Linked DNA regions of Homo sapiens. The protein of the gene in region 1 interacts with the protein of each later gene in a biochemical or structural test. Each region holds a gene or a part of one and is shown in the gene's direction. Other genes may lie near its edges. The genes, in order: RANBP9, AXL, ADAP1, NSRP1 and S100A7.

Evidence for each region.
Region 2: the proteins of RANBP9 (region 1) and AXL form a complex in vitro, tested with the Homo sapiens proteins (one study listed by BioGRID).
Region 3: the proteins of RANBP9 (region 1) and ADAP1 form a complex in vitro, tested with the Homo sapiens proteins (one study listed by BioGRID).
Region 4: the proteins of RANBP9 (region 1) and NSRP1 form a complex in vitro, tested with the Homo sapiens proteins (one study listed by BioGRID).
Region 5: the proteins of RANBP9 (region 1) and S100A7 form a complex in vitro, tested with the Homo sapiens proteins (one study listed by BioGRID).

Annotation. Positions count from the first base shown.
Region 1 is NC_000006.12:13,704,350-13,710,473, reverse strand, and holds part of RANBP9 (ran-binding protein 9), read left to right. Parts: intron 1-6,124. UniProt on the Homo sapiens protein: May act as scaffolding protein, and as adapter protein to couple membrane receptors to intracellular signaling pathways. Acts as a mediator of cell spreading and actin cytoskeleton rearrangement.
Region 2 is NC_000019.10:41,255,446-41,260,591, forward strand, and holds part of AXL (tyrosine-protein kinase receptor UFO isoform 1 precursor), read left to right. Parts: intron 1-1,006; coding exon 1,007-1,166; intron 1,167-2,047; coding exon 2,048-2,184; intron 2,185-4,107; coding exon 4,108-4,459; 3' UTR 4,460-5,146. UniProt on the Homo sapiens protein: Receptor tyrosine kinase that transduces signals from the extracellular matrix into the cytoplasm by binding growth factor GAS6 and which is thus regulating many physiological processes including cell survival, cell proliferation, migration and differentiation.
Region 3 is NC_000007.14:933,257-939,380, reverse strand, and holds part of ADAP1 (arf-GAP with dual PH domain-containing protein 1), read left to right. Parts: intron 1-3,875; coding exon 3,876-4,006; intron 4,007-6,124. UniProt on the Homo sapiens protein: GTPase-activating protein for the ADP ribosylation factor family. Binds phosphatidylinositol 3,4,5-trisphosphate (PtdInsP3) and inositol 1,3,4,5-tetrakisphosphate (InsP4). Regulates the incorporation of CD63 and CD9 into multivesicular bodies.
Region 4 is NC_000017.11:30,166,213-30,172,336, forward strand, and holds part of NSRP1 (nuclear speckle splicing regulatory protein 1), read left to right. Parts: intron 1-1,890; coding exon of another isoform or gene 1,891-2,002; intron 2,003-2,688; exon of another isoform or gene 2,689-2,713; intron 2,714-6,124. UniProt on the Homo sapiens protein: RNA-binding protein that mediates pre-mRNA alternative splicing regulation.
Region 5 is NC_000001.11:153,456,717-153,463,513, reverse strand, and holds S100A7 (protein S100-A7), read left to right. Parts: upstream 1-2,862; 5' UTR 2,863-2,906; intron 2,907-4,483; 5' UTR 4,484-4,500; coding exon 4,501-4,641; intron 4,642-5,543; coding exon 5,544-5,708; 3' UTR 5,709-5,770; downstream 5,771-6,797.

The DNA of each region.
Region 1 (6,124 bases):
CAGGGATACACAGGGGGAGGAGTAATCAAAATTAGGCCAGAGATTGTCTAGGGGGACAAAAGGACAAGGGGCCCAAGTTTGCCATCAATATATTTTAGTAAAAGCAACCGGGAGGGTAAGAGAAGGGAACCCCAGGAACACCCTTTTTCTTAGGGGAGCAGAAACCTACCCCTCCCGATTGGAAGTGCCCTATACAGGTCCTTAGGTGTTGATATCACATGAAGTCTTGTTGAAAACGAAGATGGAACAAAATGCAGCTTAGTATTTTGAAGAAAATTGGCTTATGTTTTGCACTTGCAGTTAAAAACAACAACCTTAGGCTTGTGCTTGCCCCTTTCCTCCCTCACCTACCTCTCCTAGGTTAAAACAAAGCTGGAAGCAAATCAGTTGTATATAAAATTATGAATTGCTATGGGAACTATTGAAATGTAGCCCAATTTAATAGCATGTATCAAGTTTACTTGTGTGGAAGAAAAAAAAATCAACCTAACGTATCAGTCTTGTCTGGAAACAAATCCAGGGTTTTAGGCCCCAAACCTAAAGCAGAAGCTTTTACATTCACGGCAGCCTCACTTTGATTGGCTGTAAAGGGGTCTACTCAGATCCTAGTGACATGTATGTAGAGGAGATAAACAACCTTGTGGTTAAATTCTTAACTTATACGGGACTGAAATTTGAGAAGAAGCTTGATAAGTAAGTTACTATTTAATCAGAAAGGCGAATGGCAATAGAAATCTACCAAATGATTTGGCTGCAAAGAATCACGCACAAAAATAGGCCTTGTTGAACATTCTTTTTATTCTCGCCATACATCCAAAGAAGTACTTCCAAGTGTTATCCTCCTTAATCTAAACGTCTGAACGTTTCATTCACAATATCAAATCTTTGTTTTTTCTCAAGTTAGGACCTTTTGTTAATTTCCTTGTGAAGTATTTCTACTTTTATGTTTTAATTTGTGTGAACGGTGCTATGTTATGAGGTGTTTACTTCTGATCTGGCTGCCAGAAAGCTATTGTTAGATGTGACAGAATTTTATAATTTTAAATTTATGGTTGACAGTAAATAATTTGCTCATAAAGTCAGAGCCAGTGTAGATGAACAAAGAATTCTAGATTTCCTGAGTTCTGCAGTTGTTTGTGGTTGTAGATATTTTACAAGACTGAGCCTCAGTTTCTTCCTCTGAGTGGTGTGTAAGTTGAGCTGGACGATTGGTAAGGAAATTTCCAGCTCTGAATTTCCGTGATGTCTAAGATTCGTGATTACTGTTTATTTAGTACTGTAAGGTGTCTTGATTAGTTTTAGTCTTTTACATAAAATTGATGATTAGGTCAGAGAAAAATACACGTTTATATGAAATTAGTTGGAGTTTGGAATATTTCTGACACTGCTGTCTCAGTTGTTTTTATTCTTGGCCTCTTTATTACTTTCTGTTGTGTAATACTAAGGTTCACTTTCTGGGAACATAACTGTTTTATAAACATAAATCATTATTTCTGGAAGAACAGATTTTGTTGTTATCCTTTTATTTTTCCTCTCTTCTATCTTTCCTTTGTCTCTCTCTTACCCCTTGTCAGAAAGTCTTTTTCCCTTTCTACTGCCTCTTCCTCTTGTCTTGTTACTGTAGACTGTGTGTGTGTGTGTGTGTGTGTGTGTGAGTTTTCCGTTGTTACTGTTGATTTTCTGCGTGTTTTGTGAGAGGACCACGCCGATTGTGGTGGGCAACTGTGTCCCAGTAGCAGTAGCAGTAGCAAAGGAGAAGTATCATAGAGAGTAGATAATACTTTAAAATCACAGAATAAGAAGAGTGAATTTTTATTTAACCTATCATTGTGCTGCATTGGTTTTACCTAAGTATCATGAGACACTTTTAACAGTAAAAACTACTATTCATATATTCACGTATTACAGAATTTCAAAAGAATGATTTTAATTATTTTCCAGAGTGACGAGAATTTTCCTTATCTTTGAAATAGAAGTATTTTGCTTTCTTTTGCTCCAAAGGTATTCTGGTTTTTTGTTGTTGTTCTGGTGTTTTTGTGTATGTGTGTGTGATAGGATTTCAACTTTGTTGCCTTGATGGAGTGCAGTGGTGCGATCATGGCTCACTGCAGTCTAGACCTCCTAGGCTCAAGGGATCCCCCTGCCTCCATCTCCCAAGTAGCTGGGACCACAGGCTCCTGTCACTATGCTGGGCTAAGTTGTAATTTTTTTTTTTGTGGAGATGGGGTCTTACTGTGTTGCCTAGGCTAGTGTTGAATGTTTGGGCTCCAGTGATCCTCCCACCTTGGCATCCCAAAGTACTGGAATTACAAGCCTGAGCCACTGTGTCCAGCCTGTATTCTGTTTTTAAGATGTTCTTCTAAATTGAAATTACTGCTTTTGGAAGCAGTATTGTTCCTGAAATGATTTGAAGAGATTAATGTTAGATAATACTAGACATGCAGATAAGGTTGATTGGATTGCAGAGGAACAACAGGGTATGTATAGTATATGTGAAATTTTTTTAAAGGCCTTTTGCTTAGCAGTCACACAACAACTATTGAAAAACCCAGGGATAGCCCCTCTTATTTTTGAAATTGTTGTCAGTATTGAATAAGTACAAATGTGACAAGTTTAGACTTAGTTATAATGATAACGGGAAAATAATTTTAATAAATATGACAATGGACTTAGTTTAAATGTTTCAACAACAGATTGCATTTTTATATTTTTCTAGTTATTACCACTATTTGGATATTTTATAGAGTGCTTTATATATACACACACTAGTGGATCTGGACAAGATCCTGGAATTTTCATTTTAAATTTTAGAGAGTGGTAGAACCTGGAGGTTAGATCTTCCCAGTCATGAGTAAATCAGGATTGAAAATTTTCACTAACTCCAGATTTAGTGTTCTTTTCACAATCCCATAGTATTGCCTCTTTAAGTTCATATGAGACTTAATTATCTCAAGTAGATAAAATCCTGTGATCACATTTAGAACTTTTAAAGAATAGTTGAGATTGAAAATACTTACTCTGGGGGAAAAAGGTAACTGGAACACAGTGCTTCAGAAAAGTCCAGACACCTTGATTTTACTAATTTAGAACAGTTTAGAAGAAATCCAAGGTAAGTCAAAGTTGGGAATTATAGGAAGCAATGAAATAGTCAATTTCAGTGGGTGTGGTGGCTTACGCCTGTAATCCCAGCACTTTGGGAGGCCAAAGTAGAAGGATCGCTTGAGCCCAAGAGTTCTAGACCAGCCTGGGCAACATAGTGGGACCCCGTCTCTACCCCTAAAAATTAACCGGGCTAAGTGGCACACACTTGAAATCCCAGCCACTTAGGAGGCTGAGGGAGGAGGATTGGTTGAGCCCAGGAGGTTGAGGCTTCAGTGAGCTATGATGGCCTGGGTGACAGAGTGAGACCCTATCTTAAAAAAAAAATAAGTAAATAAATAGTGAATTGCATTTTTTTTTTTTTTTTTTGAGACAGAGTCTTGCTCTATCGTCCAGGCTGGAGTGCGGTGGTACAATCTCTACTCATTGCAGCCTCTCCTGGGTTCATGCAGTTCTTCTGCCTCAGCCTCCTGAGTAGCTGAGTAGCTGGGATTACAGGCGCTTAGCACCACGTCCGGCTAATTCTTGTATTTCTAGTAGAGACGGGGTTTCACCATGTTGGCCAGGCTGGTCTTGAACTCCTGACCTCAGATGATCTGCCCGCCTCGGCCTCCCAAAATGCCGGGATTACAGGCATGAGCCACTGCGCCTGGCCTGAATTGTCCTTTTTTTTTTTTTTTAAGATGGAGTCTCGCTCTGCTGTTGTCAGGCTGGAGTACAGTGGCGCCATCTTGGCTCACTGCAACCTCCGCCTCCCGGGTTCAAGCAATTCTTCTGCCTCAGCCTCCTGAATAGCTGAGAATACAGGCATGCGCCACCACGCCTGGCTAATTTTTGTATTTTTAGTAGAGGGGAGGTTTCAACATGTTGGCCAGGATGGTCTCGATCTCTTGACCTCGTGATCTGCCCGCCTCGCCCTCCCAAAGTGCTGGGATTACAGGCGTGAGCCACAGTGCCCAGCCAGAATTTCACTTTTTAATTGAAATGTTATGAACAATAACCAAATAGGTTGAACTTTTTTGTTGTTTTTTGAGACCGAGTCTTGCTCTGTTGCCCAGGCTGGAGTGCAGTGGCGCCATCTCGGCTCACTGCAAGCTCCGCCTCCCGCGTTCACGCCATTTTCCTGCCTCAGCCTTCCAAGTAGCTGGGACTACAGGTGCCCGCCGCGACGCCCGGCTAATTTTTTGTATTTTTAGTAGAGATAGGGTTTCACCGTGTTAGCCAAGGTGGTCTCTTATCTGCTGACCTAGTGATCCACTCGCCTCGGCCTCCCAAAGTGCTGGGATTACAGGAGTGATAGGTTGAACTTTTGTTATACTTACTCTGTCTTTCCCACCTGTACCCCCAGTCATTAGCGCTTGAACACTTCCTAAATATAATTGCTTATCTAATTTCTTGCACTTTTTAAGTTTGAACAGATATTTCAGCATGCTTGCTTACAAGTGCAAATGTCTGTTAAGCATTACGGGGGTGATATAAAAATGTTTCTTTTTTTTTTTTTTTTTTGAGACGGAGTCTTGCTCTGTCGCCCAGGCCCAGGCTGCAGGGCAGTGGCGCGATCTCCGCTCACTGCAAGCTCCGCCTCCTGGGTTCAGACCATTCTCCTGCTTCAGCCTCCCCAGTAGCTGGGACTACATGCGCCTGCCACCACGCCTGGCTAATTTCTTTTGTATTTTTAATAGAGAGGGGGTTTCACCGAGTTAGTCAGGATGGTCTTGATCTCCTGACCTTGTGATCTGCGCGCCTCGTCCTCCCAAAGTGCTGGGATTACAGGCGTGAGCCACCGCGCCCGGCCTAAAAATGTTCCTTAAAATGAAGGAATTGAAGAATTACTTGCCAAGATTTTGGGAAATTAGGTTTAAAAATGCCAGTTGGTAACTGCAAGAATCAAGTAAATCTAATAATCATGCAGAACAGTAGACAATAATAATGTATATTCTTTTTTTTTTTTTTTTTTTTTTTTTTTTTGAGACAGAATCTTGCTCTGTCGCCCAGGCCGAAGTGCAGTGGTGGCACTTTGTCAGCTCACTGCAACCTCCATCTCCTGGATTCAAGTGACTTTCCAGCCTCAGCCTCCCAAGTAGCCGGGATTACAAGCGCCTGCCACCACGCCTGGCTAATTTTTGTATATTTAGTAGCGATGGGGTTTTGCCATGTTGGCCAGGCTGGTCTGGAACTCCTGACCTCAAGTGATCCGCCTGCCTTGGCTTCTCAAAGTGCTGGGATTATAGGCGTGAACCACTGCACCCAGCCTAATGATATATATTCTGCTAGACTAGACAATTTATATGTGTTTTTCACTGTTCATTTCTTCATTTATTTAATGAGCTTTTAGTGAATGTTTACTTTGTGCTAGGTTCTGGACACTCAGAGGTGGAGAAGATACTGTCATTGAATTCAGAGAGCTCAGAGGACATAAAATAGAGTAGTAAGGGAAATATTATAGAGAGTACTGTGGAAAATAGGAGGAGCGTATAACCCAGGCTGACATTGGAAAGAATGAAGGAAGTGTAGGTATCAGGGATAGCTTCTTGGAGGAGTCGAGGCTAGTGGTCAGTCTTAAAAGATGAGTAGGATATAGGAGAAAGGGAGGGGCTAGGTGTTGCAAATGAAGGAAAAGCAAAAACATAGAGAATTACTTTATGTGTCTGGTTTTACAAGCAATTTTGGGTTGGCATTTAGAGTATGTGACAAGGAGCATCTGGGAAAAGATCAATTAGGAGGCTTTTTTTTTTTTCTCTTTTGAGGCAGGGTCTGACTCCATTGTCCAGGCTAGAATGCAGTGGTGCGATCTAGGCTCACTGCAACCTCTGCCTCCTGGGCTCAAGTGATCCTCCCACCTCAGCATCCTGAATAGCTGCAACTACAGGCACGTGCCACCATTCCCAGCTAATTTTTTGTATTTTTTTGTAGAGAAGGGGGTTTTGCCATGTTGCCCAGGCTGGTCTCGAATTCCTGAGCTCAAGCCATCTGCCTGCCTTAGCCTCCCAAAGTGCTAGGATTACAGGCAGGAGCCACTGTACCT
Region 2 (5,146 bases), on another chromosome or scaffold:
TTTCTTTTTTGTTTTGACAGAGTCTTACTCTGTCCTTTAGGGTGGGGTGCAGTGGCATGATCATAGCTCACTGTAGCCTCCAACTCCTGGCTCAAGCTATCCTTCTGCCTCAGCCTCCTAAGTAGCTGGAACTACAGACATGTGCCACCATGTCCAGCTAATTTTTAAATTTTTTTGTAGAGACAGGGTCTTGCTTTGTTTTCCAGGCTGGTCTTGAACTCCTAGCCTCAAGTGATCCTCCCACCTTGGCCTCCCAAGGTGCTGAAATTACAGGCTTGAGCCACTGTGCCTGTTTTTTTTTTTGTTTGTTTTTGAGACGGAGTCTCACTCACTCTGTTGCCCAGGCTGGAGTGCAGTGGCGTGATCTCAGCTCACTGCAACCTCCGCCTACTGGGTTCAACTGATTCTCTTGCTTCAGCCTCCCAGGTAGCTGGGATTTCAGATGTGCACCAACACACCTGGCTAATTTTTGTACTTTTAGTAGAGACAGAGTTTCACCACATTGGCCAGGCTGGTCTCAAACTCCTGACCTCAAGTGATCCACCTGCCTTGGCCTCCCAGAGTGCTGGGATTACAGGCGCCAGCCACCATGCCCAGCCATGTTCTGTTTCTTAATCTGGGTGCTGGTTACATGGGTGTGTGTGTGTGTGTGTGTGAAAATTCAGTGAGCTGCTTACTTATGACTTGTGCACATTTCCATATGTACAGTATACTTCAAGAAAAAAAAATTTCATCAAGGAATCAAACCCAAGGAAGGACCTTAGAATCTAGCAAAGAGCCAAAATTGGGAAGTCCTGAGGAAGCCCTTTGTCCCATCCTCACTTGACAGAGTGAACAAGAAGTAAAGCAGTTCCCTTCTGGACTGGGATGAAGGTTTAGGAGACAGATCCCCACCCGCAGCCAGGACAGTGAGGGGAGGAGGTGCAGATGTGTCTGAGAGCCAGGGCAGGCTTCCTGGTGGAGGTGACTGATGCCCTGACCCTGTTCCTTTCCCCAATCCAAACAGGCTGAATGAGAACATGTCCGTGTGTGTGGCGGACTTCGGGCTCTCCAAGAAGATCTACAATGGGGACTACTACCGCCAGGGACGTATCGCCAAGATGCCAGTCAAGTGGATTGCCATTGAGAGTCTAGCTGACCGTGTCTACACCAGCAAGAGCGATGTGGTAGGTGCACTCCCGCCAAGAGTGGGGAACCATGGGAGGGCATGGCCTGACCATCACACACTATGCCTGGGTGGCTGTGGATGCAAGGGTCACAGGGACATGTGGGCTTCCCTTTGCAGGGGCTTGTCCACATGGGCTGGGCATGTCTTGGGGTATGGTGGGCATCTCTGAATAGTGGTGTGTACATGCCCAGGATAAATACAGGCCCACGTGTGCATGGTAGCAATGTAGACAGTTTAGGTTAGAAGAAGCTGCAGTGATTATGCGTGCATGTGCGCACACTCATAGAATGTGGACAGCCAGGGTGTGCAGAGTGGCACATGAGCTCATGTGTCCATGAAGTGTGTATATGTGTGTGATGGTGAGCATGTGTATGCATCCACAAAAGTTACTTATTCATGTGTATACCCGTGTCAAGTATTTTTTATATATATATATTTTTCTTTTTTTGAGATGGAGTCTCGCACTGTCACCCAGGCTGCAGTGCAATGGCATGATCTCAGCTCACTGCAGACTCTGCCTCCCGGGTTCAAGCAATTCTCCTGCCTCAGTCTCCCGAGTAGCTGGGATTACAGGCGCCCACCACCATGCCTAGCTAATTTTTGTATTTTTAGTAGAGACGGGGTTTCACTATATTGGCCAGGCTGGTCTCAAACTCCTGACCTCAGGCAGTCCGCCCACCTCAGCCTCCCAAAGTGCTGGGATTACAGGCATCAGCCACCGCACCCGGCTAAAGTATTATGTTTCTATGAATACTTGTGATGCTCCCAGAGGATGGTTGTGAACATGTGTACATAAGTGTGGGTGTACCCATGAACCTGGGTATTGGTGCGGGTGATTCTGTGCAGGAGAGACTGTCTAATTCCCTCTGCCCCTCACAGTGGTCCTTCGGGGTGACAATGTGGGAGATTGCCACAAGAGGCCAAACCCCATATCCGGGCGTGGAGAACAGCGAGATTTATGACTATCTGCGCCAGGGAAATCGCCTGAAGCAGCCTGCGGACTGTCTGGATGGACTGTGAGGACCCTTAGGTCTCCCCCAACCCAGAATTCATTCCAAACCCCTGACTACCCCCAGATGGCCCTCACAGGTCCAGGACTCTCTATAACCCAGACAGAATCCCTGAGAATGCTGAGTGACCCACTTGCCCCTCACCAATGCTCTGAGTAGGGCCATCACTAACCAGTGGGGTGCAAATCAGCTAAAGGCACCCTTTCCTCCTTTGTCTGTGTGGGCTGAATCAGCCCCCTGGCTCCCCACCCCCAAGCCAGGTATCCTTGGGTAGTGAATAACAGCACAGTCTTACCTGGCGGCCCTGCCTTTGGGACATGCACTCCCAGAGACTTCTCATTCCAGACTCCTGAGCACACCATGCTTCCCCGACATGCTCCTCAACACCTGAGACTCTCTGCAAAACCCTTCAGTTTGTTTTATTGGCCTTCTCCAGACTCAGGTCTCCTCTGAGATATTTGCAGGATCCTTCAGGGAATGCTTACCAAACTTTGCAATATTGGAGTATGCGGAGAAGGCCGTGACATTTAGCTAGCACTTTGAGGGTAAAGAGAGGATGACTTTGGGTCAGGAGGAGACAGCCTGGGGCGTCAGACTCCTCAGTCCACCTTGGGTACTCCAAGAGCTGAGACGAGTAAAAATAACAGCTAACATTTTCATATAACTGACTAGAAGGCACTGTTTTAGGTGCCTGGCATGTGTCAAATCATTTGGTCCTTACCACAGCCATGTGATGTAGATAGGTATCATTATGATTCCCATTCTGCAGATAAGAAAACCCAGTCCTACAGGGAGGGTAATTTATTTTTATTTATTGACTTGAGTCTCGCTCTGTCGCCCAGGCTGGAGCACAATGGCTCCATCTCGGCTCACTGCAACCTCCCAGGTTCTAGCGATTCTCTTGCCTCAGCCTCCCAAGTAGCTGGGACTACAGGCGTGTGCCACCATGCCCAGCTAATTTTTTTTGTATTTTTAGTAGAGATGGGGTTTCACCACCTTAGCCAGGATGGTCTTGATATCGTGACCTCATGATCCACCCGTCCCAGCCTCCCAAAGTGCTGGGATTATAGGCATGAGCCTCCACGCCCAGTCTGGGAGGGTGATTTATTTGCCAAAGATTGCACAGCTGGTGTGTTTGTTATCTATATCCCCAAATCAAGTAGTTTAAAACAACAAACGTTTATTATCTCACACAATTTCTGAAAGTTGGATACTGGGAACAGCTTAGCAGGGTGATTTTGGTTCAGGATCTCTAATGAAGTTACAAAGATATCACTGGGGGCTGCAGTCATCTGAAGGTTGGGACTGGAGGATTGCTTTCAAGGTGGCTTACTCACATGGCTGTAGCAGGAGGCTTCAGTTCGTTGCCATGTGGACCCCTTTGTGGCACTGCTTGAGCTTACTCACAACATGGCAACCCAGGAGAAAGTGCGAGGAAGCCACATGCCTTTTATGACCTAGTCTCAGAAGTCACACACACCATCACTTCTGCCAAATCAGAAGCAAGTCACTAAGTCCTGCCCATGCTCAAGAGGAGAGGATTTATTCTCCGTCTTTTGCAGGGAGGAGGGTCAAAGAATTTATGGACCTATTTTAAACCAGCACAGCTTGTAAGTGGCATAGCCAGGCTTTGATGCAAGTCTGTTCTGGGGAGCTGGAAGGTCTGTTCTAGCAAACCCTCATCAGAATACTACTCCATATACAGACAGGTTTCCCGAGACCCTTCCCAGCTCCTGAGTCTCCCAGGACCCAACTCAGAAATTCTTGGGAATTCCCAAATCCCCATAGATGGCCTCAAACTGCTGAGGCTCCCTATAACCCTCTAAAATGCCCCCAGTCCCCTGAGTGTCCTAAAATGTCCCCAGGCTTCCAGAATGCACCCCTTCTGAGTCCCTGCTCAATCTCCCACCCCTCATTTTGCTGCCCTAGGTATGCCTTGATGTCGCGGTGCTGGGAGCTAAATCCCCAGGACCGGCCAAGTTTTACAGAGCTGCGGGAAGATTTGGAGAACACACTGAAGGCCTTGCCTCCTGCCCAGGAGCCTGACGAAATCCTCTATGTCAACATGGATGAGGGTGGAGGTTATCCTGAACCCCCTGGAGCTGCAGGAGGAGCTGACCCCCCAACCCAGCCAGACCCTAAGGATTCCTGTAGCTGCCTCACTGCGGCTGAGGTCCATCCTGCTGGACGCTATGTCCTCTGCCCTTCCACAACCCCTAGCCCCGCTCAGCCTGCTGATAGGGGCTCCCCAGCAGCCCCAGGGCAGGAGGATGGTGCCTGAGACAACCCTCCACCTGGTACTCCCTCTCAGGATCCAAGCTAAGCACTGCCACTGGGGAAAACTCCACCTTCCCACTTTCCCACCCCACGCCTTATCCCCACTTGCAGCCCTGTCTTCCTACCTATCCCACCTCCATCCCAGACAGGTCCCTCCCCTTCTCTGTGCAGTAGCATCACCTTGAAAGCAGTAGCATCACCATCTGTAAAAGGAAGGGGTTGGATTGCAATATCTGAAGCCCTCCCAGGTGTTAACATTCCAAGACTCTAGAGTCCAAGGTTTAAAGAGTCTAGATTCAAAGGTTCTAGGTTTCAAAGATGCTGTGAGTCTTTGGTTCTAAGGACCTGAAATTCCAAAGTCTCTAATTCTATTAAAGTGCTAAGGTTCTAAGGCCTACTTTTTTTTTTTTTTTTTTTTTTTTTTTTTTTGCGATAGAGTCTCACTGTGTCACCCAGGCTGGAGTGCAGTGGTGCAATCTCGCCTCACTGCAACCTTCACCTACCGAGTTCAAGTGATTTTCCTGCCTTGGCCTCCCAAGTAGCTGGGATTACAGGTGTGTGCCACCACACCCGGCTAATTTTTATATTTTTAGTAGAGACAGGGTTTCACCATGTTGGCCAGGCTGGTCTAAAACTCCTGACCTCAAGTGATCTGCCCACCTCAGCCTCCCAAAGTGCTGAGATTACAGGC
Region 3 (6,124 bases), on another chromosome or scaffold:
GGGCATGGTGGTGCACGCCTGTAATCCCAGCTACTCGGGAGGCTGAAGCAGGAGAATCACTTGAACCTGGGAGGCAGAAGTTGCAGTGAGCTGAGATCACACCATTGCACTCCAGCCTGGACAACAAGAGCGAAACTCTGTCTCAAAAAACAACAAAAATGACAGTAAATATTTTAGGGCCGTAGAGTCTCCATCACAGCTAGTCAACGACCGCTCACAAAAGCAGCTATAGACAGTTCATAAATGGGCATGGCTGAGTTCCAGTAACACCTTATTTACAACAACAGGCAGCTGGTCCACGCCGTAGAGTCCAGCTCCTGCTACGGGTTCCATGAACAGGCCTCCTTCCAGGCCCAGCTCCCTGGGTTCTGTGAACAGGCCTCCTTCCAGGCCAGGAGAGGGACAGCCTGTCCCGGAGCACCCGAGTGAGGTTGGAGGTGGGCACAGGCATTCTGGACCCTGGGCTGGGCGGGAGCTGTTGGTGGCCGTTGCTCAGCCTCCCTCAGAATTTCTAGATGGGCAGATAAAGGCCATGAGACAGGAAGCCTGGGTCCGTGGTCCACACTGTCGGAGCAGAACCAACAGCATTGCCATGCGGTGAGAAGGAGGGCCCCCCACTGCACCCCGAGCGGTGATGTTCCCAGCTGGGCTCATGTTGCCTGCTACCCCTGTAAGTGGCTCGTGCTGTCCCATCCGACAGATGAGGAGACCGAGGCCCGGAGACTGGCGTGCCTTCTGGGCGCCCCTCGCACAGCCACGTACCGAGCATTTGCGGCATCTTTCACCAAGGCTTCGGGAGAAGACGGAGCCCGGGGGGAGTCAGGTCTCTCTCTTCTGGGACTTCAGTGTGGTTCTTCCCCACCTGTTCTCCAGGGGTGTGTGTAACTAAATACTTTGCAGGCCAGACACGGCGTCACACATCTGTAATCCCAACACTTTAGGAGGCCAAGACAGGAGGATCGCTTGAGCCCAGGAGTTCAAGCCCAAGCTGGGCAACATAGAGAGACTTCATCTCTACCAAAAATTTTAAAAATTAGCTGGGTATGCTGGTGCATGCCTGCGGTCCCAGCTACTTGGAAGGCTGAGGCAGGAGGATCGCTTGAGCCCAGGCGTTGGAGGCTGCAGTGAGCTGTGAGCTGTGATTGCACCACTGCACTCCACCTTGGGCAACAGGGCAAGACCCTGTCTCAAAACAAAACAATACAATACAAGACAAAAAAAACCCCGCAAAACCAAACAACGGCTGATCCTGTAACCGCATTCTTTCTCCCAAAAGCCGCCCTACTCAGCACAGGCAAAACTCCTGGTACCCGAGACAGGGTCACTTGGGCAAATGTTTGACTGACTGAGGGGTGAGGAGAAAGCCTGTGGTCTCTCTCGAAGACAGGGGCTCTGCTGAAGTAGGGCTGTTAGTGGCCCCTTCATTCATGACTCCCGTGGAGACCTGCTCCGGACTGAGCTCTGTGCCAGATCCGGGGGTGCTGGGTCTGGGGTCCTCAAGAAGCCCACGTTAATGGGGAGACAGGCTTCATTAATCAGGGAGCCTAACAGCTGTGACAGAAAACCCCCAAATCCCAGAGGCCGGGCATGACCCCCAAATCCCAGATGTGCAGCGTGACCCCCAAATCCCAGAGGCCGGGCATGACCCCCAAATCCCAGAGGTCGGGCATGACCCCCAAATCCCAGAGGCCGGGCATGACCCCCAAATCCCAGAGGCCGGGCATGACCCCCAAATCCCAGAGGTCGGGCGTGACCCCCAAATCCCAGAGGCCGGGCGTGACCCCCAAATCCCAGAGGTCGGGCGTGACCCCCAAATCCCAGAGGCCGGGCGTGACCCCCAAATCCCAGAGGTCGGGCATGACCTCCAAATCCCAGAGGCCGGGCATGACCTCCAAATCCCAGAGGCCGGGCATGACCCCCAAATCCCAAAGGTCGGGCGTGACCCCCAAATCCCAGAGGCCGGGCGTGACCCCCAAATCCCAGAGGTCGGGCGTGACCCCCAAATCCCAGAGGCCCGGCGTGACCCCCAAATCCCAGATGTGCAGCGTGACCCCCAAATCCCAGAGGCCAGGCATGACCCCCAAATCCCAGAGGCCAGGCATGACCCCCAAATCCCAGAGGTCGGGCGTGACCCCCAAATCCCAGAGGCCGGGCGTGACCCCCAAATCCCAGAGGTCGGGCGTGACCCCCAAATCCCAGAGGTCGGGCGTGACCCCCAAATCCCAGAGGCCGGGCGTGACCCCCAAATCCCAGAGGTCGGGCGTGACCCCCAAATCCGAGGCCCGGCGTGACCCCCAAATCCCAGAGGCCGGGCATGACCCCCAAATCCGAGGTTCAGCCTGCTGGTTCTCACGCACCATCCCCGGCCGGGGGCTCACTTGGGTGCCTCTCCTCCTGGCAGTGACTCAGAGCCCAGGCCCAGCCCCAGCCCCACTGGGCCTCCGCCGCCTGGCATGGGAGTCCCCCACCAGCCAGGGGTGGGCCCCGATCAGCGTTGGGAGGGGGGCTATCCTCCGCCAGGCCTGAAGGGTGGGGTCCTCTCCACTCATGATTCCCCAAACAGGCTTGGGTCCACAGCCGCACCTGCTTGTGGGGAAGCGCCTCGATTTCCACCAGCCTCACCCAGGAGAGCCTCCACTTAAAAATAAAAGCAGTTCAGAGATGACTCATCTCCCCCAGAGAGACTGTTCTCTCTAGGGTGCCTTTCAGCCATTCCACTCCCTTGACTTATTGTGAAGGGTCGTTGGGAGCCAGAAGAAAACAGGAGAGTCACACAGCAGCCCTCTTAGCCATCGCCCCAGGGCGGGGCTGGACGCTCCCCACATTTTGCCGTTTCAGAATGAGACATTTCACACGTGCAGCAGCAGAAAGACTGCGCTGTGGCACCCACACCCTGGGCAGTGGCTCACGCCTGTCATCCCAGCACTTTGGGAGGCCGAGCAGGTGGATTACTTGAGGTCAAGAGTTCGAGGCCAGCCTGGCCAACATGATGAAACCCCATCTCCACTAAAAATACAAAAGTTAGCCGGGCATGGTGGTGCGTGCCTCGCTACTCGGGAGGCTAAGGCAGGAGAATCGCTTGAACCCGGGAGGCAGAGGTTGCAGCGAGCCGAGATCGTGCCATCATACTCCAGCCTGGGCAACAGACTATGTCTCAAAAAAAATTCTGCTCCCTCAGCCTCCCAAAGCGCTGGGATTACGGGCCTGAGCCACTGTGTCCAGCTTTGTTGGACCTTTTAAGGCAAACCAGACATCGAGACGTGGAATCCCTAGACAGGCCACATGCAGGGTGAAGCCACAGCGCCGCTGTCACACCTGCAAAGTTAGTGGCCGCCGGGCGCTGTCACCCCACGCAGGGTGCGTCGTCATCCGCGGCTACCATCCGTCCTTCGGGGGTGTGCAGCGCGTTGGGTGTGAGGCACCCCCTGCACTCAGATCCTATCTGAATTTCCCAATCTTGGCCCCATCACCCAGGAGGATTCGGGCCCACAGACTTCTCCCAGGGCAGCGGACACGAGGAAAGCAGGTGGACCCATCCTCACGAGTGCCGGGTGCCCTCCAGCCCGGGGCATGGGCTCCTGTGGGGCCGGCCTCTGCTGGAGGTTCCCGGCACCCGCGGGGCAGAGCAGGTGCATGCAGATCGGCTTCCTCAGATGCCGTGGGGTGTCTGGGGAGAGCCCCGTCTGCACCGGGCAGAGGGCGGGGGGGGAGCTGGGGTTAGGTGCCTGTGGGGCGCACGGAGCCTGGTGTACCCGGGGGTCTCCGCTGAAGCCCCCCCCACTGCATGGCCGGGGGCTCCTGACTCGAGGCTCCGTCCACCCTCCCTCCGGGGTCCCTGGGCTGAGCCTCCGTGAACGTCCGGCTTTCCCTTGCAGATCCCGACTGGGCCTCCTACACTCTGGGCGTCTTCATCTGCCTGAGCTGCTCGGGAATCCACCGGAATATCCCCCAGGTCAGCAAGGTGAAGTCCGTCCGCCTGGACGCCTGGGAGGAGGCCCAAGTGGAGGTACGGAGGGGGAGGGGCGGGGGGACCCGCGCAGTCCCCGGGTGGCCTCAGCCCGGGCCTCTGGAGCCAGAGATGCCGGGCGGCCTGGCTGTGGCCCCTGGAGCCTTGGGCTACTCTGGGGGCCTGGCTGGCTGGACCCGAGGACCCCGCCCCCTCTCCAGCGGCTCCGCCTGTGTGGCTGCTCCACCCACCCCGTGCCGGGTCCAACCTCTCTGTGAGCAGCTCCAGGTGTGTGTGGTGGGCCAGGGAGCGAAGGCGGGTCGCCGATTCCCGTGCCCTGGGAGCTCCGGAGTGCTCCCCTCAAATCCCCACACCTGGAGCACTGGGCTCAGGGTAAAAGAGACCCTGTCTCTAAGGAAACAGAATGCAGCGTCCCAGGCCGCGCGGCACGACCCAGAGTCAGGGTCGCATTTACACGGCAGTCCACGTGCACCCCGGCCCGCTGCCGTGTAGGGCACCATTACCTGTCCCCTGGGCGGCCTCTGAGGTGACACAGCCACTGCCCACCTCTCACCCATGCATCTGATGAGGCTTCACGGAGCACTTGGCATGGCCAGGCAGGGACACCAGCCACAGATGCTTCGTGGGGCCCTAGAGACGCCCCTATGGGGAGGGAGACGGGTGTGAGCCAACCAGGAAGCCCTGGCGTGCAGGGAGGGGCCACGCATGCTGGAGGCGGCAGGAAGGGCCCCGTAGGGAGACCCCGAGGGAGGTGGAGAAGGAACAAGACCCCGGCTGGGGGCTGCAGGTCGGATGGAGCGTGGGGCCTGAAGACCCGGTGGGAGGGTCACCCCAGCCCCACTCGTGGGACTTGGGGTCTGGAAGCCATTGATCTTCCTGACTGCTGTGAGTGGGACCGAAGGGCCGCATGGAGGTGAGAGTGGTGGTCTGGGGGCTGCTGTGGGGATGGGGAGGGTCGTAGAGGCTGGTGGCCTCCTGTACATGTCTCTCCCCTCTCCAGCACCATTGACCCTGGGCCCCCCCTCTCCAACACCACTGACTCTGGCACCCCCTCTCCAGGACCACTGATCCCAGCCCCTGGTTCTCCAGCACCACTGACCCCGGCTCCCGGCTCTCCAGCACCACTGACCCCAGTCCCCGGCTCTCCAGCACCACTGACCCCGGTCCCCGGCTCTGCACCACCACTGACCCCGGCCCCCGGCTCTCCAGCACCACTGACCCCGGCCCCCGGCTCTCCAGCACCACTGACCCCGGTCCCCGGCTCTGCACCACCACTGACCCCGGCCCCCGGCTCTCCAGCACCACTGACCCCGGCTCCCGGCTCTCCAGCACCACTGACCCCAGTCCCCGGCTCTCCAGCACCACTGACCCCGGTCCCCGGCTCTGCACCACCACTGACCCCGGCCCCCGGCTCTCCAGCACCACTGACCCCGGCCCCCGGCTCTCCAGCACCACTGACCCCGGTCCCCGGCTCTGCACCACCACTGACCCCGGCCCCCGGCTCTCCAGCACCACTGACCCCGGTCCCCGGCTCTCCAGCACCACTGACCCCGGTCCCCGGCTCTGCACCACCACTGACCCCGGTCCCCGGCTCTGCACCACCACTGACCCCGGCCCCCGGCTCTCCAGCACCACTGACCCCGGTCCCCGGCTCTCCAGCACCACTGACCCCGGTCCCCGGCTCTGCACCACCACTGACCCCGGCCCCCGGCTCTCCAGCACCACTGACCCCGGCCCCCGGCTCTCCAGCACCACTGACCCCGGCCCCCGGCTCTCCAGCACCACTGACCCCGGTCCCCGGCTCTCCAGCACCACTGACCCCGGTCCCCGGCTCTGCACCACCACTGACCCCGGCCCCCGGCTCTCCAGCACCACTGACCCCGGCCCCCGGCCCCCGGCTCTCCAGCACCACTGACCCCGGCCCCCGGCTCTCCAGCACCACTGACCCCTGCCCCTGGTTGGGAGTAGCTCATTTGCTTCTAACAGGCAGCCTTGGTGCATGGGTCACACCTGGAGGCTTGTTAGAAATCACAGCTGGGATCCCAGTGCCTCGACCAGGTGTGGGGGTGGTGCCTGTAATCCCAGCCACTCAGGAGGCTGAGGCAGGAGGATTGTTTGAGCCCAGGAATTCTTTTTTTTTTTTGAGACGGAGTCTGG
Region 4 (6,124 bases), on another chromosome or scaffold:
ACTGTTTCTGAGTCTACACTTGTGAACGTTATTTTGTAAGTTCTCCTCATGCTGTACAGTATAGGAACACTGAAGTTAGAGATTAATAATCTTTGCAGTTATTATATAAGTTTTGTTTTATTCACAGGGCACTTATGAAATCTATTTTTTCTCTTGCTGAGTTCAATAAGATCAACCCTTCCCTGATTTATGGCAAGAGGATCTGCTTTTGTGATATTTACCTTCTTGAGTATCCTTTCTTTTTATGAAAACCAGACTAAATTAAAAGTTCTCTTAAAATTTGTGTTAGTATTTGAAAAAATTTTATACAAGTTTATGGGATACCTGTGAGATTTTGTTATATGAATGCAATGCTTAGTGATCAAGTCAGTCAGCAATTAGTGTCTGTTACCCAAGTACAATACGTTTTTGTTAAGGGTAGTCACCCTGGCCAGGTGCAGTGGCTCATGCCTATAATCCTAGCACTTTGGGAGGCCGAGGTAGGCAGATCACTTGAGGCCAGGAGTTCGAGACCAGCCTAGCCATCATGGCAGAACCCCATCTCTACTAAAAATACAAAAAAAATTAGCCACGCATGGTGGCGCACACTTGTAATCCCAGCTACTCGGGAGGCTGAGGCAGGAGAATCGCTTGAACCCGGGAGGCAGAGGTTTCAGTGAGCTGAAATCACACCACTGCACTCCAACCTGGGCAGCAGAGCAAGACTCCATCTCAAACAAACAAAAAGGATAGTCACCTTACTCTTCTGTCAAACACTGAATATATTCCTTCTATCTTACTGTATGTTTGTACCCTTTAACCAGCTTCTCTTTATCCTCCCCATTTCCCTCACTTACCCTTCCCAGTCTGTTATCTACCTTTTCACTCTACCTCCATGTGATCAAAGTTTTTATTTTAGCTCCCACATGGAAGTGAGAACATACGATATTTATCTTTTTGTGTGTGGCTTATTTTACTTAAGGTAATGACCTCCAGTTCCTTCCATGTTGCTGTAAATGATACGATTTCATTCTTTTTATGGCCAAATACTATTCTGTTGTGTATGTATACTGTATTAGTATTTTAAGGATACCACTAAAAACGTAAAAAGACTTGACCTTTAAAAACATAAGATCTGGCCGGGCACGGTGGCTCACATCTGTAATCCCAGCACTTTGGGAGGCCAAGGCAGGTGGATCATGAGGTCAGGAGTTCGAGACCAGCCTGACCAACATGATGAAACCTTGTCTCTACTAAAAATACAAAAATTAGCTGGGCATGGTGGTGTGCGCCTGTATTCCCAGCTACTCAGGAGGCTGAGGCAGGAGAATCTCTTGAACCCGGGAGGCGGAGGTTGCAGTGAGCCGAGATCGCACCACTGCACTCCAGTCTGGGCAACAGAGTGAGACTCTGTCTTAAAAAAAAAAATAAGATCTTACTGATCTGCTTTTAATTGTAGTAGTTTTTTTTCTCACACATAAATATATGTATTTAAGATATTTGTTAAAAAGAAAAATATTTTCCCATTCATGATATGACTACAATGTATCTGAAGGAATCTGTTTTTCATTGATACTATGGAGTAGATGTAGAAACAGTACTTAAAATATCAAATACTAAATAGACTCGTTTTTCCTTTAATGTTAATAACATTCTGTGTTTTCATTTTATGTGACTTTCCACTCTAATGGTCAACAGTACATGTACAGTTATAATAATACTTATGTTACTCTAGTAGATGGAATCATACCTCAGCTTTACGTTTTCAGAGGAATCATCTCAGTTGGTGAATTTCCAATAATAGCAACATAGGACACCGTTCAATATTATAAAGTTTAAATCAGATTTATGCTATAGGCTATTTGTACCTTTCCATGCCTTTTAATTCTGTGTTGTCTTGAGACATTTCAGTGTATATCCAGTACTGGTGTTTAAAGGAAAGTTATTAAAGTTTGGAATAAGAGTACCTGAATTGGAATCTTGCTTTGCCATTCACCAGCTGTTTGTCCTTAAATTCTCTCAGGTAATCTGTAGCCTTAACAATTAAAGGTGACTTCTATATGTCATTTAGCTTACTTATCCATTATTTCTGAAGTTGTTAGGATTATTGTAACTACTGTTGTTGTTACTATTTTTAGATTAATATATTTCCTTTCTGGATTTCCATTTAAAATATATTTAAAGAATCATAAAAATTAAACACAAGCAACATCCTTTTATATTCTGCACAGTTCTTAGCAGAATTATAGATTCAAAAAAGACACACAGAATAGGCCACAATACATGTGCCAATTTTTGTTCTCAATCTTAAAATTACATAGTATAATTATTATGGTTATCTGAAAACAATCACGTTGTGCACATGTACCCTAAAACTTAAAGTATAATAATAATAATAATAGTAATAATAATAATAATAAATAAAATAAAATAAGTATCTGCTCTTTTATGAGGAAATTGTTTTTAATTGTAGTAGTTATTTTTCAGTCTGATCTGAATCTAGATGAGTTTTTTATGTTATATAGAAGATCATTTTATATATTTTTATATAGGGTTACTATTACAGAAAAAAGTAAAAGTTTTACTGCTACTCTTTTAAGCTTTTTGTATTTGTTTAAACAGGTTTTTGGCATTTAATCGTCATCCTTAGTGGTAATTGTTAAAGTACCTTTATTTAGAAAATTGAGAATCAAATGACCTTCAAAAGATCATCAGTTTTTCCTGACTTTTTCAGGTTAGGTTCAGAGTTATCCACTGATGCTGTTGAATTCTAGGGATATAAGTTTGTGAATAGAATATGTAAAACTATTGCACTCCTTCCATTATGTTACCTTCCTGTGTAAGTAGTAACAGCTTGTTTTTTCAACGGTCATACTTCATTCTTCTAAACAGCTATGAACATAGAAACAAAATCTTTTGAGGTGTCTCAAAATAGATATAGTCTACATTGGAAAGGCCTTTCTCAGTCTGCTTATTCTATATTTTATAAAAGTCTGGAAAGGTATAGCCTTGTGTTTTTCTTTCCCAAGTTTTCTTTTTAAAAGTTATTTTATTTCTCTGAGAATCTTCCATAACAACCAAGTTACATAGTTTAGATTGAAGCATCCAGTTTGAAAGGCAGCAGGTAAACTCTGACAGATTAAAGGTGACAGACTGAAGGAGGAGATAGGAAAAAATAAAAGCAAGTAAAAGAGGAAAACATCCAGCATTTGGAGATGTAATCTTCTCAGTCAGTCCTGAAGACATCATTAACTCAGTGGTCAAGAAAAATATTTTTCATTCATACTAATCAGAAATACAGACATGAAAATACATTGGAAATATTAACTATTACTTTCAGTTTTGGTATTTAAAATTGATATTCTAGTGAATGAAAGTTTCATATTACATGTAACAGAAATTTGGATTAAATCAGTAATACATGTAATACACAACTAGTATACTTAGCATAGCACCTAGCTCAATAAATGTTAGCAGCTATTACTGTTTTTGTTATCAACATCTTTCCCCCAGTTAGTCAGTTTACCATCACCTAAAATGTCTTTAGTTCTTTGCATACTTATTTAATTTTTTAAATATGTATTATATGACCTTTGTGTATTAAATTGATTTGTCTGTGGTCATAGAGAACTATTTTGTTCTGGTTATTACCATGAAAAAAAAAAAGCACCAATTGCTGGTACAATACAACTGAAGATAGCAAGTGTTAATAGGCTGGACTACTATAATTCTAGAGCTGAGGATTTTGTGTACATATATATATTTAAAACTTACACATATGTTTTTATGTATATTTAAGACTTCGTTTTTTTTTAAACAGCAGTTTTAGACTGACAGCAAAATTGAGAGGGACAGAGATAACCCATGTAGCCCTTGCCCCCACAAATGAAAGAATTAAAAATGCATCAGTAGCTTTATTTTGGCTTTTTTAAAAAGATGTAATTCACATAGCATAAAATTCATGCTTTTATACAATTCAGTGTCAGTATATTTGCAAATCCTGATACTTGAAAAAAATTAATTGTGCATATTAAGGTATATAACAATTATGGGATATAGATGGTAAAAAGTTTACTACAGTAAAGCAAATTAACATGTCCATTATCTTACATACTTTTTTTGTTTCTGTGGCAAGAGCAGCTACAATTTACTCATTTAGCATGAATACCATATATAGTACAATTTTATTACCTATTGTCCTCATGTGGTACATTAGATCTCTAGACTTGTTCATCTTGTTACATACCTACCTCTTCCCATTTCCTCTCACCCCACCCCTAGTAACCATTGTTTTTAAGTTCTTTATCTCTGTGAGAGATTCCACTTACAAATGATGTCAGGTACTATTTTTCTTTTTGTGTCTGGCTTACCATGTAGCATAATGTCCTCCAGGCCCATTCATATTGTGGCAAATGGCAAGATCTCCTTTTTAAAGGCTGAATAATACTCCATCATACATATTTACCACAGTTTCTTTATCCATTCATTTGTCAATGAACAGGTAGATTGTTTCCATACCTGGCTATTGCAAATAATGCTGCAATGAACATGGGAGTGAAGCTACCTTTACCAGGTGGTGATTTCATTTCCTTTGGCTATATGCCAAGAGGGATTGCTAGGCTGTATGGTAGTTCTATTTTTAATTTGTTTATAAACCTCCATACTGTTTTCCATATTGACTGTACCAGCCTACATCTGCACCAGCAGTATATAAGAATTCCCTTTTCTGGCACCCATGCTAACCTTTATTATTTTTTGACTTTTTTAGAATAGCCATTCTAACAGGTGTGAGGTGTTATCTCTTAGTGGTTCTGATTTACATTTCCCTGATGATTAAAGCCTGTACTATTAAGGAAACATATTTTTCTTAAGTATTTTTTTTTCTTAGCTGTATGTAATCTTTAGTTTTGCCCATGTGATGACTACTTCCTATCTTCCTCTTGCATTCTTTTACATTTTTATTCTCTTTGATTCTGGTCTAATGTCATATCTCTTTTGGAAAGGGATTCTTGATTCCTCATATACATTTAGTTGCCTTCTCTGCCCTGGGCTCCCACAGTGCTTTGTTTATTCCTTTATTATATTGCTTATCACATTTATATTGTAATTGTCTTTTTTTTTTTTTTTTTTTTGAGACAGAGCCTGGTTCTGTTGCCCAGGCTGGAGTGCAGTGGCACAATTTTGGCTCACTGCAACATCTGCCTCCCAGGTGCAAGTGATTCTCATGTCTCAGCCTTTCAAGTAGCTGGGATTACAGCTGTGCTCCAACACTCCCGGCTCATCTTTGTATTTTCAGTAGAGACGGGGTTTCACCATGTTGGCCAGGCTGGTCTCAAAACTCCTGGCCTCAAGTGATCTGCCTGCCTCAGCCTCCCAAAGTGCTGGGATTACAGGCATGAGCCACCGCGCCTGGCCATATATTGTGATTATTTCTTTAATTGTCTTCCCTTTCAGACTGTTTATCTGAAAAACAAGATTTTGTTTCAGTCTCTGGCCTAAGACTGAGACTGTTCTTGCTTTTTCACTATCCTCAGGACCTAAACATGCTTTTTGGTACATAGTTTTTGATTATTGCCACGAATAGTTGCTGCTGTCCCTAAGCCTTAAACATAAACCGAGAGCTTGATACACTATATTGAGTGGTGAATATTAAAATAGTTTGCTTTTTGTAAGCTGGGAATCATACCATTTTAGTGTTGGAAGGTACCTGAAATATTATCTAGACCAGTCTTTCCCCATTTCTCACACACACACACACACACACACACACACACACACACACTCCCTCTCTCTCTCTCTCTCTCTCTCTCTCTCTCTCTCTCTCACATGTTCACATGAAGCAAATTGAAATCTGTAAAGGTTGAATGACAGTAGTGAATTTAGGACTAAAAATTCATGTTTACTCATCTTTTCCTGTACCATTCTATTTTCTCTGATACCTTATAATCTATTCTGAGGATTTACAATGCAAATTCATTTATTTCCTGAAGTTTAGGGAAAAAACCCTGAAAATGTTAGTTTAATTTGTATTATTATCTTTTTACTTTTAACTATAAGTAAGGCACCATTGCCAACCAGAAAACAGGTTGAGCATCCCAAATCTGAAAATCAAAAATCCTAAATGTTCTAAAATCTAAAACTTTTT
Region 5 (6,797 bases), on another chromosome or scaffold:
ATATAATTCAAAATTGTGTTCTTATGTGTATAAGGATAGGACTATTATTGCTGGGCCTGGTGGCTCACACCTGTAATCCCAGCACTTTGGGAGGCCAAGGAGGGTGGATTACCTGAGGTCAGGACTTCGAGACCATCCTGGCCAACATGATGAAACCCCATCTTTACTAAAAATACAAAAATTAGCTGGATGTGGTGGCGTGCACCTGTAATCCCAGCTACTCTGGAGGCTGAGGCAGGACAATCGTTTGAACCCAAGAGGAGGAGGTTGCAGTGAGCCAAGATGACACCACTACACTCTAACCTGGGTAACAAGAGCGAAATTCTGTCTCAAAAAAAAGAAAAAGAAAAAAAAAGAATAAGACTACCGCATCTTGGTGACTTGCACACTAATCAATAAGAAATATTCTTCTTTTTCATTTAATCCCTTTTCTTAGAATTCTTTGTTGTCTTGTATTAATATTGTTGTCCCTGATTCCTTTTGTATTACTTTTCCTCTGTTCCTTTTTTCTAAACAGTGATGATACATAACTCAAAATGAATCATAGACCTACATGCAAACACAATGTTACAAAACTCCTAGATGGTAGCATAAGAGGAAATTTGATCATCTTGGTTTTGGTGATGACTTTTAGATGGCAACACCAAGGCACAATCCATGAAAGAAAGAATTCATAAGCTGGACTTCTTTAAAATTTAACATTTCTCTTTGTGAAAGATATTGTCAAGAGAATGAAAAGATAAGCCACAGACTGGGAGAAAATGTTTACAAAAGACATATCAGACTTTGTATGTTATCCAAAACATACAAAGAACTCTTAAAACTCAACGATAAGAACACAAACCAAACAATTAGAAAATGGGCCAAAGACCTTAACAGATATCTCATCAAAGAAGATACAGAAGGTGACAAATAAGCATATCAGAAGATGCTCCACATCATATGTCCTCAAGGAAATGCAAATTAAAACAACAATGAGATACCAGTACACACTTATGAGAATGCCCAAAATCTGGAACACTGGACAACAGCAAATGCTGAAGAAGGATGTGGAGCAACAGGAACTCTCATTCATTGATGGCAGGAACACAAAATAGTACAGCCACTTTGGAAGACAGTTTAGTGCTTTCTTAAAAAACTAAACATACTCTTACCATAGGATCCAGAAATCACACTCCTTGGGATTTACCCAAAAGAAGTGAAAACTTATGTCCACACAAAAACCTGCATACACATATATATGAATATATGGCACAATGGTGAAGTCTGGGCTTTTAATGAAGCCATCCTAAATAGCATGCATTGTACCCACTAAGAAATGTCTCATCCTTCACCCACCGCCTCACCTGCTGCCCTTCACAGTCTCCAGTGTCTATGATTCTACTCTCTACCTCCATCTGTATGCATGATGTAGCTCCCACTTACACATGAGGTTGCACAGTATTTGACTTTCTGAGTAATTTCACTTAAGATAATAGCCTCCAGTTCCATCCATGTTGCCGCAAAAAGCGTGATTTCATTCTTTTTTTATAGCTGAGTAGCATTCCACTGTGTGTGTGTGTATGTATCTTTTGCTGTTAAAAGTAATATTGCCATCACATGGGGAACTGGGAGAGGGAGAAACAGGTCCCCCTGGTTACATAGGTACTGACGAGAAGGAAGTTGAAGAAAGATGATGGGTGGAGAAAATAGGTCCCACCTAGGGAGACATCACATCAGCTCTGTGGAGCCCCAGAGTGCTTAAAGGGCTGGCACTAAATGAACCTGGAACTCTCTTGCACCCTAAAAGGAACATTGCAAGGGGGTAGCAGAAAAAGTCCATTTCAGTGATTCATCATCTCCCTTTCCTCACCATGCCCCAGGGATTCCCATGCCTTCCCAACCCTCTTGCCCCTACCTGGGTCAGCCTTTCCACAGCAGGTTAGGGCACATTATAGCCAAGGGCACAACTCCCAACTCCTACACAGGCTGTTTTGCATAGGAGGAGGAAAAACACTGAAGACTTTCTGGGAAGTTAGTGCCATGGGGCAGGAAAGAACTTTTCCCACTCCCTGCCTCCAGGCTCATTCCATGGGGGGGTCACTCCACCACTCAACCTAGATAGTGAGGCCCCTGACCCCAGTCCCCCCACCTAATTCCAGGGCTTCTGTGAGGGGCTGACCAATGGTTAGCAATGAAGTAACCCTGCTTCCCTCCCTGGACTTTGAGTTCCCATAGGGCAGACCCTGATGTGACCCAAGACCTATAGCACAGGGGATAAGAGTAAGGATTTGATTCAGGCTTTTCTGAGTCCATATAATGATTTGTTGTGTTTACTAGCTGAGTAAACTTGGGAACATCTCAACTTCTCCTTTCCTAAAATAGAGATTGAAGCACCTCTTAGGACTATGAGGGTTGAGGAGGATGCAGGAGCAGCAGGTATCTTGATATCTAGACATTAAAATGCTCAGTCAGCGGTGGGGGTCATAGAACAGGCTGTCATAACAAATGTGTGGAAGGATAAGGGGAGGGAACAAACAAGACCATGCTGCCTTCAGGAGTCTGAAACTCCATCCTCTTTGGGTCCAGAGGCCCAGTGCTCTTTTCTCCCATTTTCTGACCTGCTACTACACATGTACCGCTGCCTTACCCTCAAATCAAGGTTGAGCCAGAGAAGACTCCAGGTGAGGTCTCTGGGGTGGGGTGGGACCTGGTGACCTGGGACACTGGCCAGAAATCCTGAGCACAGCCTCCTGGGTGTGTCCCACCCACCTGATGTGGGGCAAGCCTCCAAGAAACAGATGACAGAGGTGGCCCCAGGCCTCCCAGCCCCTGGGAAGAGCCAGGCTGAGCCTTATAAAGGACTGCTCTTTGTCCAAACACACACATCTCACTCATCCTTCTACTCGTGACGCTTCCCAGCTCTGGTAAGTCTCACCTGCCTCTTTGCGTTTTCTAGAAGTGCCCAGTGCCTGGCCTGCCATGCTGCCTGTAGGAAGGGAAAGGGCTGTGGACAAAGACTCAGAAGCCTGGGTCTAGGCCAGCTCTGCCATTAGCTGGGCTGTGTGACCTTCACTTGACCCCAAAAGCCCACGTCTGTATAACCAGGTGGCTGAACCAGACCTGTCCATTGCTCCTTTGGGATCTCCTGAGGCAACTCCTGTGGAAATGTCCCCAGTGGGACCTGAGCACAGGACCCTCCCTGTCCTCTTCCTCCCTGGATTCATCCTCCTGTTGGGGTCCCGGTTGCTAAATCCCCTCCCCAGCTCCAGCTCCACAGAGGGTGGAGGGCTAGGGGTCCCCTGTGAATGCTTTGGAGGCTCTCCAAACCCCCAGGCCTGGGACCCCGACACAGCATAGCCCTGGCCAGATGGCTTGCCCCTACCTGGGTAAGGTATTGAGAAACCAACGCTCCGTCACTCCCTACCACAACCTGCAAATTGTCAGTCACCCTCTGGGCACAGGGCTTGCCCTCTGGCCTTGGCCTCAGATTCAAAAAAGCTCTGGGTGGCTCCTCTTAGTCAGTTGCCGGCATGGAGCTTTCTCCTGCATTGAGAGGTGTTGGGGGTTTATTGTCAGACACCCATATGCATTAGCCAAGGTCCTTTCCTGGTTCTTTGGAAAGTGTGGGAAGTGAGAACTGCACTGTCCTATTTTTCAGGCTTGGGGTGCAGGCCAGCCCAGACTGACTACTGGCTGAAAGATCTGCTTTGGGAAGTCAGACATTTTTATTTAAACAGTCAAGGCTTGGTGATTCAGAGGGTGCAGATAATTCCCAAGAGCAGACATGAAGTGACTCCCACCTCACTCCCACCCCGTCCAGCAGCTTAAGAACCAGAGAGTTATTTCTGTTCCTTGTAACAGAGGCCATTCCTGTTTCTCGTTCCCAAGGGAATACAAGAAGGGCCCCCTGTGCTCGGGACAGGACTGTGTTTCCTGCTAACACTCACGTCCACGCTCACATGTGCACCTGGAGCCTGCACACACCGTGTCATGCAGGGCTTGCACTTGAGTCAAGGTGGGGCCCACGGTGTCTGGTTCCTGAAGCAGCCGAGGAGGGTCAGACACCAGATCACCAAGGCCATTGTCCTGCCCCCATGACTGTCACCCCGACTGTGAAGCTGGAGGAGATGGATTTGGTGCTCTTTTAAGAGTGGGGTCTGCCATGTGCTGGCTGAGGCTGGGGTGTCCCAGCTTAGTTCTTCCATGTGTTGCTGGCGCCCGACTCTCCCTGCTTCTCCCTCTCTGAAGCACTGTCCACAGCTGGACTTCCGCCATCCACCTGCATCTCCTCTTGGCCCTGGCCAGGATGGGCCAGGTCTCAGACTTGGTCCTACCCTCTCATTTTTGAGCAACTTATCCCATCACATTAAAAAAAAATTGAGTTCGTTCTGCTACACCTTATCCGTGTTTTTACTCTGTCCTCAGCCCTCCTTCCAGCACTCCCAAATAGAGACCCTAACTTAAATGAAGGGAAAAAAATGATTGTCTTTATTTCCTGAAGGCTTTTTGAAAGCAAAGATGAGCAACACTCAAGCTGAGAGGTCCATAATAGGCATGATCGACATGTTTCACAAATACACCAGACGTGATGACAAGATTGAGAAGCCAAGCCTGCTGACGATGATGAAGGAGAACTTCCCCAACTTCCTTAGTGCCTGTGTGAGTCGGTGTCTAGCTTCTCAATGTTGGAGGATACATTTTGCTATGTGGCCTTGGACAGATCACCCTCACCCTCTGATTAAAAAATTTCCCATTTGCAAATAGGGCTTTATTACTTGGATCATATGTGAATCTAAGGATGGTAGGCAAAAAAGTATGAAAATGGGAAAGAGTTATACAGATATAAAGGAGGTTATTAGATGGTCAGCAAAGTGTGCAGCTTGAGGGCAGTGCACAGTCCCCTCCCAGCACTCACTGACCCTCTCTCTGTGAGACTGAAACTCACATGCTCAGGTCCTGTTTCCCAAAGGCCCCACATCAACATCCCTGAGATTACTGGGAAAGCACTAGAAGTTCCATTGTTAGTAGAAATCAATAGCCCTCTTTGCAATAAACAAGACTCATTAGCAAATCTGAAAAAAAACTGTGGGCTACTAGGTACCAAAGGGTCTAGATGACCAAGAGTAGGATACCCAGAAGATGAGTTTGGTGGAAAAGGAGAAGAAAGGAGAGGAGGCCAGAGAAAGAAGAGAACAAAAGCATGAGGGCCAATTTTGAGGCCCTGGGGTAGAACTAAGGTAGGCAGTGCCCTTAGAGGCTGGGACGGGAAAGAGTGAGGCTGGGGCAGGGGACTGCTCTCCCCAAGGTCACTTAACAGAGCACCTTGGGACAGGACCTGCCTCCCATCCTGAGGTGTGAGACAAAAAGACTCCCTAGAGAACTCCAGGGATAACACTCACGTCCTCACCCCAACTTCACCCACTCACCCTGTGCTCTCAGCCCCGCCACCATGCCTGTGCAGATCTAGGTACTTGTCTGTATCTCTGCCTCCTCCTCTCCCTCCCAGCCCAAAACTTGTTTGTGATTGAATTTTTCTATTTTGTATGTTTTTCTCTTCACAGGACAAAAAGGGCACAAATTACCTCGCCGATGTCTTTGAGAAAAAGGACAAGAATGAGGATAAGAAGATTGATTTTTCTGAGTTTCTGTCCTTGCTGGGAGACATAGCCACAGACTACCACAAGCAGAGCCATGGAGCAGCGCCCTGTTCCGGGGGCAGCCAGTGACCCAGCCCCACCAATGGGCCTCCAGAGACCCCAGGAACAATAAAATGTCTTCTCCCACCAGACACTTGCCTTATTTTCTTCTTCTCTTTGGTGACCTACGTTGTCAAAACTACCAATTCCAGGTTAACTTTGTTGGAGAATTTCCCCCACCCCCATCCAGTGGGTCACCCAGGAGTAATGTCCCTCCAGCAACGTTCCCCCTATGGCCTCCAGCAGAGCTGAGCTGCCTCTCACACAGGTCCTGGTGTCTGCTTCTGCCCCGCTCCCTAAATGCAGCCACCATGGCAGGTTCCAGGTGGAAGTCAGTGGAAAGCTCCTGCCAGATCACAGCAATGTTCCTCCTTGTCAAGGCATGGACCAGGGTCATTCAGACACATTCAGATACCGCACTGAGAAGGGGCTGGCATCTCTCAGTGTGCTCCTGCCCTCCCGCTCCTGCCCCAGCTGTTCTCCAGGGCTTGGGGAAACAGAAACCACTCACATAGGGATTCCTGGATGGCATCAGGCTCAGGGCCCTTGTGGCTATGAATGGGATGCTCAGTAGTTCCCTGAGGATGAGCTCCCTTGTCCTGTGGCCTGGGCTCCAGGGGCTGTGTCCTCTCTCTGTGCTGTGCACTTGTGTGCATGTGCCTAAGTGGGTGACCCTGTGGAAGTGAGAGGGAGTCATCTTGAAGCTGAGCTGTCCTCGATGGTTTGCTAAATGCCAGGACTGGGTTTCTGGTGATAAATGAATATTCCAGATTTTGAGGAGCTCAAAGTAGTCCAGGAGTCCAAATAAGGAGTCTAGCCGGAATAAGGCAGCACCACGGAAATGTCCTAAGGACTGACACAGAGAGCTCATGCTGACTGTGATGAGAAATTGCAGCACCTCTATCTCGCAGGTAATGGAGTAGTTTGTTATTGGTAGTCTACTCCAGGCCAGGCAGTGTGCTATGGGCTGAGGATGCAGAAACAAGCAGGGCACAGTGCTGTCCTAGCAGAGCACTGGTGGGTCTCTCCATGCAGGCCACAACACAGGGTCAGTGTTCACCTGGTGTCACTTCCAGGCCATGTTCTGTGCAACTGCTCTTAGTATTCTCCCTAGAGGCT